Homo sapiens: one gene and its partners. The protein of the gene in region 3 purifies or fractionates together with the protein of the main gene of each other region. This does not show direct contact. Each region holds a gene or a part of one and is shown on either strand. Other genes may lie near its edges.

Region 1 (3,500 bases), on a different chromosome or scaffold from region 3:
CGCCTCCTGGGTTCAAGCAATTCTCCTGCCTCAGCCTCCTAAATGGGACTACAGGTGTGTGCCACCATGCCCGGCTAATTTTTTATATTTTTTAGTGGAGTCGGGGTTTCACCGTGTTAGCCAGGATGGTCTCGATCTCCTGACCTCGTGATCCCCACGCCTCGGCCTCCCAAAGTGCTGGGAGCCACCGTGCCCAGCCTAAAATTTCTTTATATTTTTGTAGAGACAAGGTTTCACTTTGTTGCCCAGGCTGGTCTGGAACTCCTGGGCTCAAGTGATCCTCCCATCTCAGCCTCCCAAATTGCTGGGATTACAGGCATGAGCCATCTTGCCCAGCCAGCATATATTTTATATAACAATAGTTTACTTTTTAAAAATCATGTAAACATAGGCTTGTGTTGATCAGGACAGAGGAAGGACAGAATCTGAATCTGCAGGTGCTAACTAGTGGCTTTTCTTCTCTGCTGAGTGGGTGGATGGTACTTCCTGGGAAATCCCTCATTTCTGATCACCAGCAAGTGAGGGAGCTGGCTCTGGAGCAGAGGGCAGATCTAGGCTGACATGAGCTGGTCAAGTCCAAGCTGTGGGCTGTGCTCCCCAGTCTGGCATTCCCCAGGGCTGAGAGAGTCAAACTTGCCTGATGCCATGTAGACCCTGCTCCAACAGAGGAAAAATCTCTGAGAGCTCCTTCCTTGTGGGGGACCACTTACTTTCCAGCCTGAATTCCTTCCCAGGTTGATGACAGCTTTATAAGAATTCGGTCCTTGCTGATCCCAGCTTCCTTGTAGAGCTCGATGAGCCGCCTGGCTCTGGCCACCATCGCATCTTTATCAAAGGAGAGCCTGTAGGAGCAAGAAGAACCCATCCCCTCAGATCACGCAGGTTGCCCACCACGCAGAGCAAGCTGGAGGCCGGGTGTCTGCCTGTCAGTTTTGAGCAGCACCACCGTGAGCACCAACCACTGCCCTCAACCTTCCCCTCACTGGAGGTTTGCAGAATGGCTCTGACAGCAACTCACACCCAGTCTCACAAACAGAGGTCCTCAGTGGGATCCATAGGCTATAATTTGTATTAAAAAACACTGGGCCAGGTGCCGTGGCTCACGCCTGTAATCCCAACACTTTGGGAGGCTGAGGCGGGAAGATCACAAGGTCAAGGGATCGAGACCATCCTGGCCAACATGGTGAAACCCTGTCGCTACTAAAAATACAAAAAAATTAGCTGGGTATGGTGGCGGGTGTCTGTAGTCCCAGCTACTTGGGAGGCTGAGGCAGGAGAATCGCTTGAACCCGGGAGGTGAAGGTTGCAGTGAGCTGAGATCACACCACTGCACTCTACACTGGCAACAGAGCGAGACTCTGTCTCAAAAAACAAACAAAACAAATCAAAACAAAAAACACTAGCAGCCGGGCACAGTGGCTCATGCCTGTGATCCCAGCACTTTGGGAGGCCGAGGCAGGTGGATCATGACGTCAGGAGTTCAAGACCAGCCTGGCCAAAATGGTCAAACCCCATCTCTATTAAAAATACAACAAATTAGCTGGGCATGGTGGCAGGTGCCTGTAATCTCAGCTACTTGGGAGGCTGAGGCAGAGAAACGCTTCAAGCCGGGAGACAGAGGTTGCAGTGAGCTGAGATTGCGCCACTGTACTCCAGCCTGGGTGACAGTGCGAGACTCCATCTCAAAAATAAATAAAAATAAAAATAAAAAACACTAGAGATCAGTTGCTAAACAAGGAGCTCTTGGTCATCACTACCAACTGTGGGAGAGCTCAAAATAAACCTCCTCTTGGGCCCTTGGGATGAAGACCATGGGTGGAGCAGCCCCTTGACCTCATGTTGGCATCCACGTGTGCAACTGTGGACACCTGACCAGCCCATCCAGTGCAGGAGCAAGCATCCTTACCTTGCGTCTACTTCTGTGGATACTCGGCCCGGAATCTTCTTTAGTATTTCTGCTCCAAACAACACAAAAAGTTTATCAATAGCATTTTTAATCTGGTCCTCTTGTGACCTGAAATTCAAAGGGAAAAAAAGCAGGTTAGAAGCTTCTGAGGTTCGCCAGGTGCGGTGGCTCACGCCTGTAATCCCAGCACTTTGGGAGGCCGAGGTGGGCGGATCATGAGGTCAGGAGATCAAGACCATCCTGGCTAACACGGTGAAACCCCGTCTCCACTAAAAATATTAAAAAATTAGCTGGGCATGGTGGCGGGTGCCTGTAGTCCTAGTTACTAGGGAGGCTGAGGCAGGAGAATGACGTGAACCTGGGAGGTGGAGCTTGCAGTGAGCAGAGATCGTGCCACTGCACTCCAGCCTGAGCGACAGAGCGAGACTCCATCTCAAGAAAAAAAAAAAGAAGCTTCTGAGGTTCAAGTGCACAAGACTCTACAAAATAAATTCTGTTATTTCTTTGCCAAATTTCCTTCCCTCCATCTTTTTTTTTCTCTTAAAACATTTTTTTATTGTGGCCAAATAATACATATAACATAAAATTTCCCATCTTATCCTTTTTTTTTTCCCCCAAGACAGGGTCTCCAGCTAAGGCTGGAAGCACAGTAGTGTGATTATGGCTCATTACAGCCTTGACCTCCCGGGCTCAAGTGATCCTCCTGCCTCAGCCTCCCAAGTAGCTGGGACTACAGCTGCACACCTCTATACCTGGCTAATTTTTTTGTTTTGTTGAGATGGAGTGTCACTCTGTCGCCCAGGCTGGAGTGCAGTGGCACAATCTCGGCTCTGCCAGCTCTGCCCCCCGCGGTTCACGCCATTCTCCTGCCTCAACCTCCTGAGTAGCTGGGACTACAGGCGCCCGCCACTGTGCCCGGCTAATTTTTTTGTATTTTTGGTGGAGACGGGGTTTCACCGTGTTAGCCAGGATGGTCTCGATCTCCTGACCTCGTGATCCGCCTGTCTTGGCCTCTCAAAGTGCTGGGATTACAGGCGTGAGCCACCACGCCTGGCCCATGCCCAGCTAATTTTTATATTTTTTTGTAGAGACAGAGTTTTGCCCTATTGCCTAGACTGTTCTCGAACTCTTAGGCTGAAGGGATCCTCCCATCTTGGCCTACCAAAGCACTGGGGTTACAGGCGTGCACCACTGCCCCCAGCCCACCATTTTAAAATGTATTCAGCACATTCACAGTTCTGTACAACCATCACCATCCATCTCCAGAGCTCTTTTCATCATCCCAAACTGCATCCCTCTATCTTTTGGCACTTGCAAAATATTATATTTTCTATCTCTTCAAAGTTATTGGACAGACACCCAGTGAAGTCCATGATTCTGTTCCAAAATCTGAGCAGCCTTGTTAGCCCACTACACACAGGAAGATCTTCAGCTAGACGCTCAGAGGTTAGAATTCTTGGGCCAGACTGGGTGCAGTGGCTCACGCCTGTAATCACAGCACCCTGGCAGGCCAAGGTGGGCAGACTGCTCAAGCTCAGGAGTTCGAAACCAGCTAGGGCAACATGGTGAAACCCTGCCTCTAAAAACAAATACA
Region 2 (3,500 bases), on a different chromosome or scaffold from region 3:
ACTGCCATGAAGAGTGTTGGCTGAAACCGCAGTTACCAGTGTCTTTACTGGACGCGAACATCCCTAAGGACACGGCTGTGCTGCTTCCTAAGCATACGTGACCACGATACTGTCTTTCCCCGGGTCTCCTTAGCGCCATCACTGCACCAGGCCCAGCATGCCTCAAGTCCTCCAGAGCCTTCTCCTGAGACAGCACTAGGGGCCACGTCAGACCCCAGGCTGCAGCCCTTCACCGTGCCCGTCCCCGGTCCGGTCTGCCCTGCTGGGGCCGGTGGGTATCATGGGGACCCCTGTGTAGACACGGACACCGGAGAGCGTGGGACAGGAGGCGTCTCAGAGCTCCCCACCCACACACTCAAGGGTCAGCGTCACTCATGTTTCCTTCTGTTCCCATGGTGCCTCCAAAAGGGTTTCCAAACAAAGTCATCATTGATTACCCTGGAGTATGTCAATAAGCCAAACACCAGCAGCCAGATACCACCAAGCTAGTCACCACTTTAAAAGAAGATGAGCTGGAGAACGAAGCAGCCCTCTGATGGACCCAGTCAGTGCAGTCGGGACTCAGGGAGACACCCGGGGACCCCTGCCCAGCTCCCTGCCGGAGGAAAGACTAGGGAAGGGAAGCAGAGGAGGAACGAAGGGCGCCGGCAGAGAGAGTAACAAGTAGAAACTTCGCCGATCTGGGAGCAGGCCGAGAAACTCTGTTGAGCTGCTAAAGAATTCTTCATTCTCATGTGATTTTCTTCATTTCTGTCTTCCCAGTTACTACCAAGGAGCTAAGGAAAGTTCAGGAATACTTTGTTTAGTGTCGCCATAACATCTCCAACCATGCATTAAGTTTAACCAAAAGCTGCAATATTCCAGATTCTTAAATTCTCAATGGCAACCAATTTATGCTCAAGTTGAAAATCTGGCAAGCACCGTACGCCTTCAGCACACGCGTGGGTCCGGATTTTCCCATCACACACACGCTCTCCCCCGTCCAAGGTGCCTGTTTACTTCTGGTCTGCGCGGGCTCAGGTTTCAAAGAGCTTGCTGAAGGCGGCCCCCACCTCGGCGATCATGTCGGAGGTGGTGGTGGAGCGACCGTGCTTCTGGAAGGCTTGGTGGTTGCACTGCCTGGTGAGAGAGCAGGCGCCAAACGCGGCCACCAGGAGAGGGCTGGACCTGCGGAGAGGGGGACAGCAGGAGGTGTGGGGAAGTGGGCGTCGTGGTCCGGGGGCCGCAGCTACCCTGGGCTCTGGTTTTGACTCCTGTTTCAATCTCAGGACCCCAAATTGTCAATTTCAAGTCTGATATGCCCCTGAGGAGAAAGCAGGTTTATCACAGCGAAAACCACCATTAACCCTCCACTACTCCCTGGCAGGAGGCACACAGGAAACGTCTATGTACTCGGAGACAGGTCCAGGGCTAGGGCACACAGTGGGCCAGGTGTTCCCGGGGAAAGCCAGGCGGCACAAGCTGCTTAGCCCTGTTTGACTGTGCTCTCAGTGCCCAGGTGCAGAGGGCATCTGAGGTCTGAGAATGGGGATTCCTGCTACCAGGGCTCCATCTCCTGGGGGAGGGGTGGAGGCAACTCGAGTGAACACAGCAGAATGAACAGTAAGACTCCTGCCCACACCCCTACCTCCTCGGCTCTCAAATTCATGTGGACACACCTAGTTTGGGGGATGGTCCCAGACTCTGCCATCCCGGCAATGAGGACACATGAGGCCACTGGATGACAGCCCTGCCCACCCTCCAGAAGCCCGGGTCTGCCACACCTAGCACCTGCAGCCACCACCTTGATGGGCTCACAGAAGAGAAATGGAGATGCTTAGAGGTATGGGAACTGCTTGCATTCATAAAGTTCTCTGACTACAGAACTGGGCCAAGGGCCCTGGTCCTAGAATTCTGCTGTCTCTTAAAGAAAATTCACATCTTTAAGAACAAGTGTCTAAGTAAGCCTTGACCCTGTCTGTTTTCTATCTTAGTATTCTGTGTTACACAGAATAAACCACTCAACTTCCCAGAACAGCGTGCTGCTGGGCCTTGGTTGCACCTCGGAACTCTCTGGAGAGCTCTGAAGACCACCCCTGCCCCAGGCCCCATCCACAGTGAATGATGGACAGGCCCAGGCCCAAGTGTGGGGTGGAAGCTTCTGCCAAGAGGGTTCGTCTGTGCCGAGATCTCTCCAGTGAAGCCTAGAGTTCATTGTCAGTGTTTCCAGGGCTACTTATTCAACGCATGAGCTACTGAAACAGCTTAGAAAAATCAGACGGTTTCAAAGTAGAATAAATGAAGACGTGGCCTTACCCATTTGTTTTCTGTGGTCCAGCAAGGAGCGCCCAGTGTACCAGGACGCCCAGGGAGCCCGACAGGAGGTCCCCTTGCCCTCCACACCTGCGGCTGCTGCCTTCCTGGCTGCACACAAGCACTGCACAGGGCAGAAGTGAGAGCAGGTGTCAGCATGGCCATGTGTGTGAATGTGACAGTAGCCACGGGTGTGGAAGGCCGCACGGCAGGCAGAGCCACACCCTCCAGGAGCAGCCTGAGGCTCCACTCACATCCTGCCTGCTACGGCTCTTCCCTGTTTGTTCCAAGGGTTGGAGGCAGCCTCTGTTTTACAGAAGAGGAAACCAAGACACGCAGTGGTGAGGCTGCCCCAGACCCCGCTGTGTAGCACAGCAGGTTGGTGGAGACACCTGCAGCTCGGAACCGCCTCAGACGAGCCCAAGCAGGCAGCTCTGAGCAGGGCGGCGCCAGCCTCCAGCTCCTCCCACCAGCTCCCAGGGACGGAGCCCTCACCTGCAGCCCACACTCCAGAGTTCACCTTAAACCACAGCTCAACCATACAGGGCAACACCGAGCGAGGCCTCCACCGGCCTCATAACGTCACGTATGCCTGTGTATGGGAATTCTCTATTTCTTTGAAAAATGTTTTGAAAACCAGGTGTTACATTCTCTGAACCTGTTAGACCCAAGAGAGCCTTCCAGTGATTAAAAAACCCTCATCTCAAAGGTGTCAGAGTCCCTCTGAGAACATCTGCTCTGTGTTCCTTGTGCACAGCTGTGTGTGGATGAGTGTGCGAGGGCGTGTGCGAGGCTGTGAGCATGACCATGCATGTGTATAAGTGCGAGTGTGCAAGGGCGTGCGAGGCTGTGAGCACAACTGTGCATGTGTATGAATTGCATGCGTGTGCACATATGTGCATGTGAATGTGAGTGTACAAGTGTGGATGTGCACACACCCGCCCACAGACGCCTCAGTGTTCTACCCTGATTTTGGTACCTAGTCCAGCCCCACAGCTCAGCAGGTGAGCACATTCGCTGCCCATCATCTGTCCAGGCCTGAATGGAGGGGCTTCCATTTTCAGCGCTAACAAGGGCACGGCTCCCCAGATGCCTCGCTGGCGCTGGGCCCGGCCTCTGCCCTGCTCTCACTTGGCTCTTGCTGAAGCCTCCCCAGGCTCCGTGGGAGTGGCCAGTTGAGACTCGCCACACTCAGTGCCTGAGATTCC
Region 3 (3,500 bases):
AGAGAGATCTTACAGATGGACCAGAGGACGTAGCAATATGGAATTAGGAGAATGCAGACACCCTCACCCCGGCCTAGGCTGAGTGACATGGGCTTGGAGAACAAGCAACCTCTCCTATAAAAGGAGGAGCATTTTATTTCTAGCTCAGTTACACATTCAACTAACATCAGGTATGTTCTAATTCCCCAAAACAATTCTTTCCACTCAAATGCCGCTTCGTAACAATAATTCATCCTATTAGTCATCAGCCTGTCCCCTAATTAGTGTGGTGTGACCTATTGGCCACAAATTAGAAGATTTGAATGTAGATTTGAAAAGTACAGTCTGAAATGAGTCTGTGGTCTGAAATGAGTATCTGATTTCCAGCAACAGAATGAGAAGTGATTTACATACTAAGTAGCCATTTTCTCAAAACATCAAAGTGTGAGGCGCCCATCAGACACCTTCTCAGCTGATGGAACCCAACAGCAGAACTTCTGGCCCTCTCTGCTGGGAGCAGACAGCCCTGGGCTGCCAAAACAAAAGCAATTCTTTTTTTTTTTTTTAATTCAAAAATCAAGCCAGCAAGGAGAAATGAAAAAACTAAAAAACATGTCTCCACAAGTTGGATATTAACCTTGCCAAATGGAGTATCCACATATTTTTCAGTTCTTCCTTCTAAAATTTCTGGATCATCCAGGCCTGTTCCACCAATTATTCCAATCTAAGAGAGAAAAAGACAGAGAAGATTATTGTATTTGGTAATTTTTATTAGAAATAAGATTCTAAGCAAATTCATTTATTCATATGCTCTTCTCCATTCCTGCCAAGCCCTAGTTATTTTTTTGAAATCTGAAAATTACTGAACATCAATCAACAAATATTTCAAAGCCTTCCATAAAAATCAACAAACATTTGAAGGCCTTCTATATTCTATAAGTAACCAAAACGTAGGGCACCTTTTTGGACTACATCACATTTACTTCTGACTGTCTGAATTACAAGTCAGCATAGAGAGGTATTTTAACCAACTCAAGGTAGAAAATCAAACCTAAAAGTAGGCAAGTATGGTAGTGGAAAGTACCTTCTGATCAATTTTGTTTCTCTGTCAAATGGACTATAGAATAAACAATGTTCAGAAGACTGCTGGGATATAAAATATTAGGTATTCCATTTGGTATTGATTTCTCCTCACTGTTCTATTTGATAAAGAAATGAGAGATTATCTTTCCCACGCCATTAGAATCACAGAGCTAGGAGAGAATGCAGACAGAGGAGACTGAAATTGCATGAAAAGTTACCCGCATATACATTTATGAAAACAATCATTCATATATGTATGCAAATTCATATTTACATGTTGTAAATATACATATAGCATACTCATGTATATTACTCAGTAAATACATTTATGCAAATATAAATAATTCAAAAGGTAGTTATAAGTTTTTTTTAAGTTCATGCATTGTATTGCATTTTTCAGAGATTATCTTGAAAGTCCTTGTCTGAGTTAAAGAAACCTAGCACTATCCTCTGAGAGTTGATCTAATTTGATGATTAAGAAAGACAAACAAGAACAATTACAAAAATAAATAAAAATTAACTAAACTGTTAAAACTAAAAATAAGTAACAAATCATTAGGGAAATTTCCTTGGGCTGGTACCTCCTAGAGAGTAAACAGTGCCAGGCTAACTTTATTAGAAACCTAATTAATGCGAAGTGACCTGAGCATTGTTGTTTTTCAATGAAAAGCTTTAAATCTATTGTCACAAGGGTAACTAAATAAAATAAAGTAGGCCTCAAGAAAAAAATTCCAGGATTAAGAATTCAGTGAACATCTGCATTAAATAATTTTCAGGTCAGGTTACACAAGTTGAGTCCTATCAACACGTAAAAAAATGGTTACCTTTCTGGCTCAGTTTCCTGAAAAAAACAAAACACACACACAAAAAAAGCAACAACAACAAAAAACAAACAAGAAAATAAGGACAATTTAGTGAGGTTTTTACTGAAGAACTCTGCCTGTTTCCCATGACATGGTTACATAATTTGTGACTGTCCACCACAATTTCCTTAAGTGGCAAAGCCAGGCTTTGATGTTGGCGCCATCTTGTGGAGGTATATTATTAAAACCACAGCAGGTTAACATACTTTTATGTCAACGAACAAAGAGTAACCAGTATTATAGCTTTCAAATCAACAGAAGTGTTCACTTAAGTCAATACATTTAAATTACGGCACTTCAATAGAAAATAACAAAAATTCATACTGTTTTAGGAAATCCCAATCCTTCCTTAGCCTGGCTTCTCCATCTTATCCTTCATTCCGTGGACCTCTGAAGCACCACAGGTCATGAGGAGGCTAAGAAACCATCCAGCCCATATCCTCACCTGGGACACAGATATGAACTGCTGACTCTGAAATTACTCTCAGCCAGCTCCCTGGGGATTCAGCTACTAGCTTTTTAACTTATCACCACTTTGGCCTGGCTGTTTCTGGGTGTTCCCTGAGCCAGGGCATCTCAGATTCTGGATTCAACACTGGATGCTCGGGATCAAATACACAAATCGAGTTGGGCTTTGTTTGGAGCCACCCTCTGAGTTTAGGTGAACTTGCCCAGCATTGTAGCAGTTGTTGAGAAATGCTAACCAGGTGTCCCGCTGAATTTCAGAGCCCCTGAGCTCACTCTCAGCAACCCCAAGCTTCAGTCTGCACCACCTGGCTGCATAATGACTCTGCACCAGGTAGCTGGCAACTCAGCCCTCAGCAAGGAACATGTAGTAGCCCTGGACATGAAAGCAAGAGTGGCTACTGCTCTGGAATGATCTGCAGGCAAGCCCATCCAGTCACTTTACTAGGTCCAGTTGTTTACGGAAACCTACATTGTGCGAGGGATACAGGGACAAGTGTAGCAACTGAGTCCCGCCATCCCAGGAAACTGGACCTCTAAGATGGAGGCCAGCAGGGCCAAGATGTGGCCAATGTCGCCACCTGCTGGCTCCACAGCAAAGTACAACTGGGATGAAGTACCCAAGCACTGATGGCCCAATTCTATCCACATTCCTTTGAGTCTCTAAGTTTGTGTCAACTCAGTACTGCCTTAGTTATAAAGTAACTGTGTCTGTGGACTTACATGTTAAAGGCACTGTGCTAAGTGCTTCAGTGGCCTTACCTTATTTCATCATCAGGACCATAAGATGGGCCCTATAGAATGTTACCCGTTTTACAAACGAAGAAAGAGAAGCACAAAAATTAAAAACCTCGTCCAGGGGCCAATCATAAGGAGCAAAGCTGGGATACAAATCTAGGTCTTTCAGGCTTAACCACTATGATGTGCCCTCTCCCAATATCCCCTGGAGTCCTCCATAACATTATACCTTATTAGAAAAGTTATTTGTCTCCATGTTATGAGACAACATGCTCAGAGAGGTCAAGTTCATGACGAAGGTCACAGAACAAGCACAGAAACAGTGACTCCAGGTATCTGAGTGAATCATCTCAGAGGGGAGGAAAACTCTTT
Region 4 (3,294 bases), on a different chromosome or scaffold from region 3:
TCTGCCTGTGTCAAATTTATTTGGGAAAAAAAACAGTGTCAGTTGAGATAAAAAGCCTATAGAAGAAATGTTTGTTGGTGTTGTGTGGGTGTGTCAGAGGATGAACACATGCATGTGTGTTTATGTACATGTATTACATATGCAGACACACACATACACACATACACACACACATATATAATAAATATATTCTGCCCAAATTAGCACAAACCCACAAGCTTAAAAACCAAATCTGCTAAATCTGACTCAAACAACAGGTACTGAGCCTACAGCTACTTCCTGCAAGCAGATGCATTACCTCTGTGACAAAGTCAGTTGTGAGTTGCAAAAAGGATAGGTAAATATCATTAAGATAAGTTAAGATTCTGCTTTCTAAAAAAATTTAAATGCAAAACATTACCTCAGGACACTGGCCACACTGTATGATTTCTGCATAATACCCAGCATATCCTAGACACTAAAGAATACTAAATTTACAACTTAAGCAGGAAAACAGAGGCTTGCTTCACAGTGGTTTAATATGAACAGAGTTGAATATGACATTGTCTGACAGAAGAATGAACAGTTTGCTGAATAAAAGCCCCGAGTCAGGATATATATACACAGCAGAAATGGGGCCTCAGACTCTCAGCACTTGTGCACAATGAAAGAGGAAATCGTTTTTAAAAAATGTCTATAACAGAGGATACAAATCAAAAAGGCAGCAACAACAACATTGGCGAGGTGGGAAAGGGAGCAGAGCCTCTCATTAGGGGCTGCTTAGCCCCTGGCGCAGGCTCAGCAGCTGGAGAGCTGTCTCAGGGAACTTCAACATTTAGATGGGTTCCAAATCCTATGTCAAAATACAATCCTAATCTCTCTGATCAGGGTCAGTCAGAATCAGCAATCCTTTTCCACAGTGCCCTGCATAGAAAACTCCAATCTTTCCATGATAGGGAGTCTAAGCAAAGAGCCCCCACCTCTCACCTGGCACCAAAGTTAACTTACTCTCACCCCACCACTTGGGACAGACGTTGGGCCCCAGCAAACAAACCACCCCCTCCAAGACAGAAACCAGGATAGTTGCCAGCCTCAAGAAGCTGCTTCAAATGTTAAGATTTAGGAAATCCATACCAAGCTGCTATCCATAGTTCAACTTCTGGGGAAAATGCTGGAGTTGCATGAGAAACAAGTGCAGGCAGTTCAATAACCCTGTGACCACGCTGGGGAGGGCAGCAAAAACTCTTGCCCCTGAGCCCCATTCAACAACTCAAAGTGCTTAGGAGAAGTCAGAGACTGTGTGGTTGGTTTGTGTGCTTCTGCCCTGTGGCAGCACTAAATGGGATGGGGGAAAGGAGAATGGAAGGAAGACAGTGTTGATGCCCTTCCCTACCGCGGGTAAGAGCCTAGAAGATAATCCACTCCCACCCTTCAGGGAGTTACCTGGCAGTGGTGAGTTGCCCCCACCCCTCAAGCCACCAAACCTGCAAAGCTAACCCATAAAGTAGCAAGGGCTTAGGGAGGGAGAACTGCTGGCCCATACTGACTCACCAGCTGATGAGCAAAAATAGGCAGCTAGAGTGGGAGCCACAAAGGGAGAGGGGCTAGGCAATAGGAGCTCCCCTACTGCCCTATGGCTTTCTTCTGACTCTGAAGCAGCCATAATGATGGGCCCAGAAAACCCACACACCCTGCTCCATACAACAGACTGCTTGGACTCTAGGAGGATTACTGCCATGGAAAGCAACAAGGGAGAGAGAAAGCAACAAAAGAAACTGTTAAGAAAACTGGGAGCAGGCCTGAAGAAAACAAGGAAAGCTTCTGAGTCTCTACCACCTTTCCAAAAAGGAAAAAATACATGCAGTTAGGAAAGGCAGGGTTTTTCCCTGCTCAGTGTTCTTGGTTAAACCTAAGAGTAAGAAAAATCCCCTGAACTTGCAGCATCAGTATGTATCCAAGTGCCTCACCAGCACAAGCGCCCCCCTCCCCCCAGGTTAGCCTTCTGGCATGGGTAAATGCCCAAGAAATTGCCTTCCAGTCTAATCCCCCCACCCACCCACCCCAACCCCAAGCAAAGGGCATCTGCCTGTGGGTTCCCACCTCTCCTCAGAGAAGAGGATCCTAGCAGAGTGCCCACATGGTGTAGTCAGGTACCAGGGAGCACAATGCCAGACAGTCTATCAGGCCAGGAGATGGGCAGCCAACTTCAGATCAAAGACAGAGAGAGGCTTAGTGTAAAAACCAATGTCATTTCAGCAGGAAAGTAGAGGGCAGGTGGTGAGAGGGGCTCCTACTGGCGCACCTTCCCCGGGACGTAGTTCCTGTCAATTGCCTCCTCTTGCAGGAACATGTGTAGGCAGCGTTCATTCTGAGCCAGTGGGTGCCCAGCAATTCTATAAAGAAACCAGGATGGTTATCAGTAGTATTCAGAATCAGAGAGAATTAGCAGAGGGATGGGGATGTGGACAGGGGAAGAAGGGCAAGGTCAGCCCTGAGGTTCAAGCCAGTAGAGGACAGCAGTAGGGTACCACCTCAACCCTAATATTGTAAAGGGGACGGGGGATAGAGGGGCAAGACAGGGAAATCCCTAGATATAACCAACATGCAGTGCTTTCTCAGGCCCTGACACACAGGATCAGAATCCTACTCAAAGGAATGGAGTTTTACTGTCCAGTCAGCCCACCACACAATTGGCACCACATCATGGTACCCATTATAAAAGGTGAGCTGGGTGCGGTGGCTCACGCCTGTAATCCCAACACTTTGGGAGGCCAAGGCAGGTGGATCACTTAAGGTCAGGAGTTCGAGACCAGTCTGGCCAACATGGTGAAACCCCATCGCTACTAAAAACATGAAAATTAGCTGGGCATGGTGGCCGGCGCCTGTAATCCCTGTTACTCAGGAGGCTGAGGCAGGAGAATCACTTGAACCCAGGAGACGGAGGTTGCAGTGAGCCGAGATCACACCATTGCACTCCAGCCTAGGTGACAGAGTGAGACTCTGTCTCAAATAAATAAATAAGTAAATAAAAATAAAATAAAAGGTGAGGTAAACAAAACATATAGAAAGACTACGATGGCAAAAGTAGCAAGTGGAGCCCCCAGGAACTTGGCTTACTTGTTAATAAACTGCTCGAGGCCCTGCCTCCTTTCTTCGATGAAAGACTCCTCAAAGATCCCTTCATCTCCTCGGAAAGGGAGCTGCCGCTTCAAGGCTTTCCCAGGCAGTGGTGGTACTACAATCTGCAGGCACACACAAAATTCCAGCCACATGGGAGAGAGACAGAGTGGGAATGAGATGGTAAAGCACCGTGTA

Evidence for each region. Proteins that work in one complex are often made in the same cells at the same time.
Region 1: the proteins of MTAP (region 3) and TALDO1 fractionate together in Homo sapiens (co-fractionation; one large-scale study listed by BioGRID). This does not show direct contact.
Region 2: the proteins of MTAP (region 3) and NAXD fractionate together in Homo sapiens (co-fractionation; one large-scale study listed by BioGRID). This does not show direct contact.
Region 4: the proteins of MTAP (region 3) and SNX12 fractionate together in Homo sapiens (co-fractionation; one large-scale study listed by BioGRID). This does not show direct contact.

What each region holds. Positions count from the first base shown.
Region 1 is NC_000011.10:757,464-760,963, reverse strand, and holds part of TALDO1 (transaldolase), read right to left. Parts: intron 2,015-3,500; coding exon 1,907-2,014; intron 843-1,906; coding exon 711-842; intron 1-710. UniProt on the Homo sapiens protein: Catalyzes the rate-limiting step of the non-oxidative phase in the pentose phosphate pathway. Catalyzes the reversible conversion of sedheptulose-7-phosphate and D-glyceraldehyde 3-phosphate into erythrose-4-phosphate and beta-D-fructose 6-phosphate.
Region 2 is NC_000013.11:110,636,045-110,639,544, reverse strand, and holds part of NAXD (ATP-dependent (S)-NAD(P)H-hydrate dehydratase), read right to left. Parts: intron 2,417-3,500; coding exon 2,296-2,416; intron 1,304-2,295; coding exon of another isoform or gene 1,168-1,303; coding exon 1,017-1,167; 3' UTR 1-1,016. UniProt on the Homo sapiens protein: Catalyzes the dehydration of the S-form of NAD(P)HX at the expense of ATP, which is converted to ADP.
Region 3 is NC_000009.12:21,812,636-21,816,135, reverse strand, and holds part of MTAP (S-methyl-5'-thioadenosine phosphorylase), read right to left. Parts: intron 704-3,500; coding exon 617-703; intron 1-616. UniProt on the Homo sapiens protein: Catalyzes the reversible phosphorylation of S-methyl-5'-thioadenosine (MTA) to adenine and 5-methylthioribose-1-phosphate. Involved in the breakdown of MTA, a major by-product of polyamine biosynthesis.
Region 4 is NC_000023.11:71,058,747-71,062,040, forward strand, and holds the end of SNX12 (sorting nexin-12), read right to left. Parts: intron 3,222-3,294; coding exon 3,097-3,221; intron 2,373-3,096; coding exon 2,270-2,372; 3' UTR 501-2,269; downstream 1-500. UniProt on the Homo sapiens protein: May be involved in several stages of intracellular trafficking.